2 separate regions of the Homo sapiens genome follow, and region 2 is linked to region 1. The links come from fine-mapping of genetic effects on gene expression. A gene starts in region 1. The other region holds a variant in brackets. All regions are shown on one strand. Distances are from middle to middle.

Region 1 (5,380 bases):
TAGTTAGGCTCCTTTCCTGGAATATCATTAGAAACCAGAAGTAAGGGTTGTTTACAATTCCCATCAAGGACATTTGGTGTGATCTCAGGAAGGCTTAACAGGGATGTGATTATAGCTACCAAAAAAAAAAAAAAGCTTAAAACAAATTGTACTACACTCTGAAGAAAGAACGCATTAACCAAATGGGCTAGGTAGGGTAAAGATTTTTCTGCACTTATCCAGCACTGAATGGAGGCAAATTCACTGACTTTGGCAGCCATCAGTAAGACTGGAGGTGAGGATACCTGGATTTTTAGGAAGGGTTTTTCCTAAATAGTAGGTATTGTTATCCAATCAGGAAGTTCTGTCCTGATATAAATGCTCATCATATAAGAGTTAGTTATCAAGAGTCAGTCAACTTGCTCACCTCTAGATGTGGTAATACTGAGGTCCAGATCCTCCTGGTGATCAACACAAACTGGATTAAGAGTCAGCTACTCAGTCAGATCCTGAATCCTGGTCCAACGATAACCACACTCTTGCCTGCTACCTGCTTCAAGAAGTACACAAAAGAGGGATCACTACCACAGCCAAAGAAAGGAGGAAAGTTTTTTTTTTTTTTTTTTTTTTTTTTTTGAGATGGAGTTTCGCTCTTGTTGCCCAGGCTGGGGTGCAATGGCGTGATCTCGGCTCACTGCAACCTCTGCCTCCCAGGTTCAAGCGATTCTCCTGCCTCAGCCTCCCAGTTGCTGGGATTGCAGGCATGTGCCACCATGCCCGGCTAATTTTGTATTTTTAGTAGAGACGGGGTTTCTCCATGTTGGTCAGGCTGGTCTCGAACTCCCAACCTCAGGCAATCTGCCAGCCTTGGCCTCCCAAAGTGCTGGGGTTATAGGCATGAGCCACCGCGCCCGGCCAAAAGGCAGAAAGTTCTAAGAAGGAGAGGTCAACATTGGCAAATGCCACAAAGGGCACAAGATGGGAATTAAATTTTTCCATTAGATTTGGCAATTAAGCAATGGCTGATGTTGTTCAGTGGAGTGAAAGGCTGAGAAGGGAATGAGAGGTTAGGAAACATTCACCTTAAGGCTAGGCAACTCCTTTGAAAAGAGTCAAGTAGGGTTAAGGGAGGATCCATGCCCTCCAGGTTGACTTTTAAATCATATTCCCTTTGGTTTTGCATTTGAATCACAGTGAACTTTCTCCTCTCCAAATGTTGATTTGACAAATTTGAGTCTTACCATGGCTCTCTTCTCAGTCCACCTGCAGGTCAAGGAACTAATGAGGTGTGGAGTAACTAAAGGTCAAAAAACAAGAGGAAGAAACAAAGGGCCAAAAAACCCCAAACCTTAAATCAGGTCCTGAGTCAGATACGCTGTAACAAATTCTGCTTCAAGTTTAATATTCTTGTTTTGATGATGTTTAAAAAAAGAAAAATAAAAGCAAGTGTCTGGAAAATTAAAAGGCGGGGTGGGGGGGGGCATTTTAATTGGAATGCTTTCTTGTATCTCATCCACTATCCGCACCCCATCGCCCTGCAAATTAATAGCTGTTGCGGAGTTGGGGTATGTGTGACCACAAAATCCAAAGGCTGAATTTTGCCCAGTGCCTGAGTAATTGCATGCCACACACAAAAAAACAGTAGAATATTGAAAACAACATACACATCTGTATTTCCATATGAAAGCACCCGTTTCCTTTCTTGATTATCTGCTATTTTTAAAGGGGTTGGGAGTGCAGCGGGGCGGGGGGATGAGGCGTTTTTTCTGAATACGAGCCCAGCTCTTTCTAAACTTTTGTTACTCACGTCCGTTTGATTCATTTGCTGTGTTTTTTCTTTCTTTCTTTTTTTTTTTCCCCTCTCCTGCCTCTGTCATTGCCTGCTGCTAAGAGGGACGCTGAATCACAGCCACTGCAGATGAAAAGCAATTCAAACCCAGTCCTTGGAGGGGGGATGGAACGGCTCTTTTTGATTTTTTTCCCCTCTGCAGAAAAAGCCTCCTACTTTCCGGGTGACCGTAGAGGGCAGTTTGACAAGTCTCAGCCCCGGGCGATGGAAGATTTTGCCCGTGGGACCGTCACGAGCCACCGGTCATCTCCCCGCGCCCGGCTTTCGGGTCCTCAGGCCTCGGTGCGTCGCGGGCCAGGCGACAGCGGGGGGGCGTCGCGGGCCGGGCGAGCGTGGCCCGGTGGGCCCGAGGGTCGCGCCGAGCTCCCCGCCGCTTTAAAAGCTCCCACAATGCAGCGCTGGCGTCCCAGTTCCGTTACGAGGTCTCTCCCGGCGCCGGCGAGCGGGCCAGGCGCGGGCGGGGCGCGGAGGAGCGGCGGCTGAAACCCGAGCGCCCGGCCGAGGGGGGCGCCCCCGCGCCGCTCCTCTCGCGCGCTCAGCCGCTGCCCGGCGAAGGGGCGGAGCCGCCTGGCCGCCCGGCCCGGCCCGGCCCGGCCCGGCCCCCAGCCCGGCCCCCAGCCCAGAGGCACCGGCCGCGGGAGCGAGCGGGTCGCCGACTCCTACGCCCGCGCTCCTCCTACGCCCGCGCTCGTCCGGCGCCCCGCGCCGCGCCCCGCTCAGCGTCTGCCGCCCAGCTCCTCGCCCAGCCTCGCCGAGCCTCGCCCTTCCCGCCCGCGGCGGCGTTGGCGCTGGGGGCGGCTCCCGCGGCGTCTCTGCCGCTGGCCGAGCGCTCGCGCACCGCGGCACCCCCGCCAGTGGCGTCCACACTCACCTAGCGCGGGCCGGGAGGTGCGCGGAGAGGGAACGCCGGGGGGCCGGGGCCTCCAGCCGGTGCGGGGCGCGCGGCGCGGGGAGCGCCGGGGAGTGCCGGGGAGTGCGGCGCGGGGACGGGCGCTGGGCGGCCGCGGAGCTCCGGGTGCCGCCGCGTCCCCAGCGCCCCGGCCGGCCCCTCTGGGCGGCCTGCGGGGGCGGCGCAGTTGCGAAACTGAGTAAGTATTAACTTTACTTAGCGGCGGCGATCCGGGCTGCGCCGGGGACCCCGCCCGTCCCGCCTGCAGCCTCGGAGCTGCCCTCCGCCCGGTTGCCCCTCTCTCCGCACCTTGGGTACCTCGTCCGTTCCGCCCCCACCCTGCCCCGCCGCGGGCTCCCGCTCCCTCTGCGTTCACCTTTCCTGGTGTGTCACCCTTTGCGCCTCTCCTCGCGGCACACAAGCCGCGGACTGAAAAGTACGAGCTTGGTCTTTGCTTTTCTGCTTCCTCCCAGTGTCCTTGGCAAGGGAGTTTAGAGGCCACTTTTCTTGCAAAGGGAATTTTATGTCTGGTTTTTAAAATATTTTTTCCTCCGGATGGAAATCGGATGCTCGCTTGCCGGGTGGCGGTTTGGTGAACGCTTTTCTCCTCTAAAAAAATATTGGTTTATAGGTTTTTAAATTTCATTTGAACTATTAACCATCTGCATTCTATTCTCCTTTGCCGCCAGTCCCTTTGGGGAGGGGAGTCCAGAAGAGGGGACGTTCAAAGTAATTCTGACTTGCAAACTAGAAAGTTTGAGAGGGTAAATCGCACAAAGCCGGAAGATTCAACTTGAAGGGACGCGAGCTTTGAATGTGGGTCCTGGTGCGGCACTGGGTTTTAAAAGATGAGTACTTGGGTTCGGAATCCAGTGTTGCGTTGTTATTTTAGCATCATAGAGCCGCCTGGTGTTGCTAAACCACTACTTTCCCAGCCTCAAATGGCATCTTGAACAGTGCAACGTAGGATATATAATTGCGGGTCAATATTGTTGCTGATCTTTAGGGATTTAGAAGCGAAATGAATGCAAATCACGTCTCATAGCTGACTTAAACCTGTCAGGTTAGCCCTGTCAGGTTAGCATTAAAGCATTTCATTAAAAAAAAAAATCCTCTAGCCCTGTGACAGCAGGGACGAACATTTATGGATTTTCCAGTAGATTGTGGCTCAGCAATTCATTAGATCTGCTTTGTCCCCAGGAAGCATTTTAAAATATGTATAAATCTCTGCTTTTCTCTCCATTAGATTAACCACTCATTCTGGTAGGGGGCCCCAGGTAGTTTTTATTTTCTTTTTTGCCTTTCATCTTGGAGTTGCCAGGAGTTGCCATCATGTTATGAAGGAACAGAAAATGAGAAGCTTTCTTAATGGGTTTTCGACATCCTGTCCTTTGCCAGAGTGAGGCGGTAGTGAATGCCAGCCAGCTTTCTGCAGGGAGAGGTGCAGGGTGGACGCAAAAATCAGGACGCAGGAGACAGCACTATCATTTGGGGAAGTGGTTTGTGTGAGTTTTATCTTTTAGCGGGCATACTAATGGTACTTTTAATTTTATTTATCTCTATGAGGCACACTCCCCAAACCATAAAATTACACATGACCATCCCCCACTTGAAGAAGACTGAACATAGTTTGATGATTATTCTATTCAAGGATCAAGTACAACAAAATATAATTTGTAATACAGATGATAAAACCTTTCAAAAATCTCCCCCTTCCTCATTTTTTTCCTCAAGAGTCTCCAGGTGGTACTTTCTGTGATGGACACAATTGGCAGTAATGCACTGAGTTCTTTCTAGGTTTATTGATCAAATCTTATGTCTGGGCTTTAGTAGCTTAGGGGTGCATTAGAGGGCCCTGAGAGGGAGCAAATCATGGGGCTGTGCAGGCAGGAAAGGCACTTCACTTTGCAGAAGTGTCAGTGTGCTTCTGGAAAAAACAGTTACAAAGAACAGAGAGTGTTTAAGTTGTTTATAGGATGCATGTTTCCTGAATTTGGCATTTGGTTCAGATATTTGGTAATTACAGATTTAAAATTCGACATGGTTGTATAATTTGTTTTGCCTTTTATTTATTTTTTTAAGGTTGCAACCTTTTAACCTGAATCTTCAGTGTTTGGCTCTTGTAGGCTTCTATACGTGGTGACTTACGTCAGTTTTTGACCTGACTGCCTTGTGTTTTGAGAAATGATTAGTTCTTCAGGGTTTCTGACTCATTAATTGATCTGTTTTATGTTGATGTATATAATGACTTGGAAGTAAAAATATTGTTTGCCGTGGGATATTGTTGTCTTTTTCTTATGGTTAATTCCTGGCATAATGGCTTTGCTCCTTTATTATAAAACATTAAGATCTTAGATATCTTGCTAGTGTTCAAAACATTACAAAACTCTTTGCAAGTAAAAGTGGAGTGGGAATGGGAGTTGGATAGAAAAACATGCATCATAAATTAAAGATTTGGATTACAAAATAATATAACGTTTATTTACTCTTCTTTGATGCTAACTTGCTCTAACCCTAAATAGACTTAAAAATTCAAAGTGTAGAGAGAGTTTCCAAGTATTCTGTATAGTGGAAAGAATGTTTACCCCACTGCCAGCCAGACTTGGGTTGCACGTGTGACTTTGTCACTCCCGAGGTGAGTGAGCTCGGCCATGCCACTTCAG
Region 2 (5,380 bases), 110 kb after region 1:
GTGATCTCCTTTCTCCGTCATTATCTGTAGTAAGAGATAAAACTACCACCCAAATTTTGAAAATCAAGAATTTCTCATGCAGTAGAAGCTTGTCAGCCTCTAATTTGTCAGTATTTTACTATTGGGATTCATTTTGACATTTAAAAAAAGGTACAAGTGGAAGTTGTGTTGCTTTTGATATCACAGAAAACACTAACTTATCACAGTCATTACTAGCAAATCCCTCTACCCACTGAAAAGTGTCTGATAATCAAATATTGATATATCCCCAAGTACCCCCTACACTCAAATAAGTGGAGAAAACAACCATTCACTTCTAATCTCTTCCCAACCCCTACCAAATCCTTGGGACCCACCCAGCCTGGGTAGAGCCAGGGTACTTTTTCTTATATACAGTAGAGGAAAGAAAGAAATGAAAAGCTGTTTAAATAATAGGATGCCCCTCCTTGCTTTTACAGCTTTCCAGCTATCCAAACTTGATCTCCTTCTGTAGGACTCTGTAGTTCTCAGATCTTTGTCAAGGATTTAGGAATTCCATAGTGAGAATCTTGTGGGAATCTTGCTTTCCTCATGCTGTAAGATAAATCTCAATAATGTATCCCATGAAAATTGAAACAGCTTACAAAAACAAGAACTCTAAATCCATGGAACAAATTACAATTAACTTTGTAGTTATAAGTTAATATGAAGTGGTTAATATGTAAATTTGTGACCAGCTTAGCAAGATTGCTGCAACACAGAGATGGGTAAAAACCTGTGGGGTTTTTTCTTTTTATTTTCCACCAATGAGTTTACAGACTGAGAAACCCATTTTTGTTTTTGTTTTTTAATGAAAGTTTATAGACATATTTATTTCAGAAGGGTGCATAATGGTTTTCCAGAGGAAAGCATCACATTTAAGAGGACAGACTAATGAAACTGTTGTCTTCCCTTGGCTTATTTCTTGGCCTACACCACAGAGTGAAAGTGACCTCTTTAGCCCATTGTGTCAATATAAACCAGATTTGTTAAATGTGCTTTTATGAAAGCAGATGTTGCACATTTAACCCCTGTAGCAGATGGATCCTCACAAAGATGTCTTGCACTGTCCAGTAGTGAATCCTCAAATTTAAAAAAATAATAATTTCCATCTAGGACAAAGAACAGGAACTGGAGCAGTTGACTAAGGAGTTGCGGCAAGTCAATCTCCAGCAGTTCATCCAGCAGACAGGGACAAAAGTTACCGTTTTGCCAGCGGAGCCCATTGAAATAGAGGCCTCACATGCAGACATTGAAAGGGGTAAGATGTTGATAAATATGGTTTATTTTCCCTTTATTCTCACTGCTTAACTTTTTTTGTTTTTGTTTTTTGAGATAGTATCACTGTATCGCCCAGGCTGGAATGCCAGGGGTATTACCACGGCTTACTGCAGCCTCGACCTCCTGGGCTCAGGTGACCCTCCTACCTCAGCCTCCTGTAGCCGGGGCTACAGGTGCATGCCACCATACCTGGCTGATTTTCTTTTTTTGTATTTCTTGTAGAGATGAGGTTTCATCATATTGCCCAGACTAGTCTCAAACTCCTGAGCTCAAGTGATATGCCTGCCTCAGCTTCCCAAAGTGCTGGGATGACAGGCATGAACCAGCATGCCCGACCATCTGCTTAACTTTGAATAAACTACTTGTATTCAGTTAAAATATTACCCTAACATTCATAGCTAATTTTTAAGTGGGACACTTAAAAATTCTTTTTTTAAAAAAATATTTCCCATTTCTAGAGGAAAACCAGTAACATTTAGGTTATTTATTTACTTAGGTGAGCATGTAATCACCAAATGTCATATCATTAGTTTGAAACTACTTCTTTATTAAAACTTTTTTCTGAAGTATATATGAGTTATAGTCTATTAATTTGAATTTTGGCTTCTCTGTTCCTTATGCCCCCCTTTTCCTTCTTTTTCTTCTAAAAGTTATTATTAATTTGTGCTGATATTTAAAAGACAATTCCAAATCTGTGTATGCATATGGTGTGAACAACCAAAAAAAGAAGCAGAATATTCACCTTTTGTAAAGATCATTCACTGTTCAAATCAACAAAAACTAGTTTATCAAAGAGACCTGAGAAGGTTTTAGCCTTCTCCCCCAGCCCAGGGCACACAGGGGATTGCAATTATTGCTCTATGCAGTTTTCCCTTTTGGGGTAGGAAGCAGTCTGATTTTTTATATTGCTAAGTACTCCAAGTTGACGAGCTCATCAGGTGGCTCTCTTTGTTTCCTGTTTAGAGGCACCATTCCAGTCTGGGTCCCTGAAGCGACCTGGTTCATCTCGGCAGCTCCCCAGTAATCTCCGCATTCTGCAGAATCCTATCTCATCTGGTTTTAATCCTGAAGGCATATATGTATGACATTATCTGTCTTTAGGGAGGAGACCCAACAGAGGTACCAAGGACAGTAAACTTCCTTTTTGATTTGTGCCAATGATGAACAGAGGATCTATTCCACAAGACGCTGTATGTTTTTTCTCTCCTAAATTGCATACCACTTGGAGCCATACCCTGTGCACTGATGCTAAAGAACAAAGAAACTGTGTTTTCACACATCAACAGTGTTGATATTTTTGTCCAGCAGCTATAATGCAAAGCCTTCGTTTTTATTTGTAGCATTTTGAGAGCTTTAGGAAAGTATTATATAGTGTGTATACATAAATAAGCCGTGACTTAAGTAAGAGTGAAGAGAAATTTGTGACTGGCTTAGTTTAATTTATTTCATGTAATCAATGTGTGAATGTTGATGTTTTAATATTTTTATTGACTTATCCTGTGACTGACTTACGTTACATATTGTGTGATTATGACCGTGTGCATGTTGCCAGACTCCATCCATGCATTGCTGATTTACACTACACAAGTGTCCTAGGGTGCTCCACCATCGAAGCTAACTCCACAGGAAGCCACTTGCATTTGTTTTGTGAAACTGTCCTAGCCATTGCTTAATTAGGTGAAATAATTCAGGGTTTTTTAAATCTGGAATTTAGTCGTTCCTTTACAATATTTCCAAATATACGTGTGGCCACAGAGCATAACAGATATTTTTCATAAGCTAAATTGTATGTATAAAACATTTGCAGTGTTTCAGACACTGTTGAACAAAAATGTAATTGGTAAGTATGTATCCAAACAGGCATGGGGTTTCCTGATACATTATGTGTTTTGTTTCTGCCCTGTCTTATCATTTACACTCATGGATCTTCAGAATTAATCTAACATGGAAGTTATAGATACCTGAAAGCTGGGTTGGTCTACTTCAGGAACATTGCTTTAAGTGATGTATTTTAAAATAACCCGCTTCATATGTATGATCTGTTGGTGTACACACCATGGGTAAGGTATTGCTTGCACATAATTTGCTCTGCATATTATGG[A/G]CCATTGTGGTTTCTTCCAGTCACTTAGATGGAAAGGAGGTTAAACCTAGGTACTTTTTAGCAAGGATATAAAGTCAAATTCAGCATATGTTTTTATTTTTAGGCTTGACTTTTACAAGACATTAATCTCCATTTGTACATATGTTATTTTATTTGTAAAACCAAATATGACTCAACACCTTTTTGATGAGTAGTGACTTAACTAAGATTTACAAGTAATATTTAGACAGATTCAGTCAGACACCACTTAGCCATTTTTACATTCCCTCTGGTTAGATTTGGTACAGTATAATTAAGACTTTAATCTGAAATTTAAAGTAGTTTTAATTCTGAAGAAGTTACATCCTCTGTATTATTTACATGCAACAAAATAAAAGTGGATTAATATAGTAATGCCATGGTAACAATAGAGCTATGTCTTATGCATGAAGGCAACTTTGGATGTTTTAACACATTTGACTGACTTTGGTTTAGTGAATGCTGACAATGCTGCTCTACTTAGGTTTCCTATGAAATTTTTAAGAATGGCTATGAGACTGTATAGAAGCTTCTAGAGAACTGAAAGTCATAATGCAGAGTTGCCTTTTCTAGTGCAGCTAAGTGGCGGACCTCAACTGAAGATATGAGTTTCTTTGGGTTCTTGGAGTTATCAAATTGATCTTGCCATTATGTTACTTTGCAAATAACTGAAGTAAATGATTCTTACCTAAATAACCACAACCTGTACACATTTGCTCACAATTTATAGTAGTTATTTTCTATCTACCTATATTTAAAATTAGGATGATTAAAAAATAATTTATAGATTTTGTGACAGTAATGATTTACATATGCCCAATATATGCCTTATTTTTAAATAAGTCATTCTGTATAAAGTCATTTTGTTGTTGTTCAGAGAAATCAAGATCTTATTCACAAAGAAAAACATTTTATAAATTGATCGCATTTTCTTTAAGTCAAAATGTTAAACTGGAGGCAGTATTAAACTTTGCAATTAGGAGTTTCAGAGATGCCTTGGCATACCACGAAAAACACTGTCAATATCCAACTCATTATAAATTGTTATCAGAATTAACCTAATAACTTTAAGTAAGGACAAGCAGCATCCTAGCAACTTGTAGTAGTCTTGGGTTCCCAGCAGAGTATCACAGTTAACCTCTCTGACAACTTCATCAGAATTTCCAAGCTGCCAAATAATCTTCATAGACCTAATTACAGATTTAAAAAAATTTCCTAGGCGACGAAAGTATAGAAATGTGAATATGTTGAATACATTGAGAAGCTGTACTTTTTAATTAGTTATATTACTTCTGGAAGCACATATCTAAGGAATATTTTCTAAGACTCAGAGGGAAAAAAACTCGTTTTCATAGGATCATCTGAAGATACTTTAGTATATTTGTGATCATTTTTATCTATTGCAAATACAAATGAATTAGATAAGTGCCACATCCTGGATACATTTCGGAGGGGTAGTGGGCAATGGTATACAAAAATACCAAATATAAAATTTTCATCTGGGGGAATGTTCAGGTTCTAAATACTAAATTAGATTTCAATGTTTTGTGTTTTTTTTAAAAAAATCATATTGCAACTTGTTTTATTGTGATTTTCTACAAGTATTAAATACATTTAAAGATCTTTTTATCTTACCAAGAAATAATTTGGAATAGCATTGGTATATTTGACCTTTTGAGTGTCTGTCATCCTCAGAGAATGGCCCATAGTGTGTTGCCTGTGGACATAGTGTCCATAGTCCCTTTCTTGTCCTTCTGAGATATTTTGGTTTGATAACATTTTGTTTTTTGTCTTGATGCACAGGGACTTTTTTATAATATGAGACTTCAGTTGGTATTAATAGGAGTTACCTATTTAATTCTCCCAGTCATCAATGAGGTAATCATCAATTCCTATAGTTCAAATTAGTCATAAACAAGAGCTACAGCAAGACTGATAGAGTAAAAACTATATAAATACAGT

The links. PIP is the estimated chance that this variant, and not a neighbour inherited with it, causes the effect. A credible set is the group of variants that fine-mapping cannot tell apart.
Region 2: its variant is the best candidate, but not a certain one, in a credible set for the expression of RASSF8 in skeletal muscle (GTEx, PIP 0.57).

The regions. Positions count from the first base shown.
Region 1 is chr12:25,956,233-25,961,612 of GRCh38, forward strand. It overlaps RASSF8 (Ras association domain family member 8), which reads left to right and starts at 2,450. Exons shown (of 6, transcript NM_001394098.1): 1 at 2,450-2,916. RASSF8-AS1 (RASSF8 antisense RNA 1) reads right to left here and starts at 3,210. Exons shown (of 4, transcript NR_038228.1): 1 at 3,094-3,210; 2 at 407-532; 3 at 1-115. RefSeq lists silencers at 2,062-2,551, 2,652-2,751, 2,822-2,871, 3,012-3,061.
Region 2 is chr12:26,066,435-26,071,814 of GRCh38, forward strand. RASSF8 (Ras association domain family member 8) reads left to right here. Exons shown (of 6, transcript NM_001394098.1): 5 at 1,135-1,279; 6 at 2,263-5,380. The coding sequence ends at 2,384. Among named protein-coding and RNA genes, the nearest start is that of BHLHE41, 56 kb to the right of the region's middle. The variant A/G (reference allele first, on the strand shown) is at 3,401.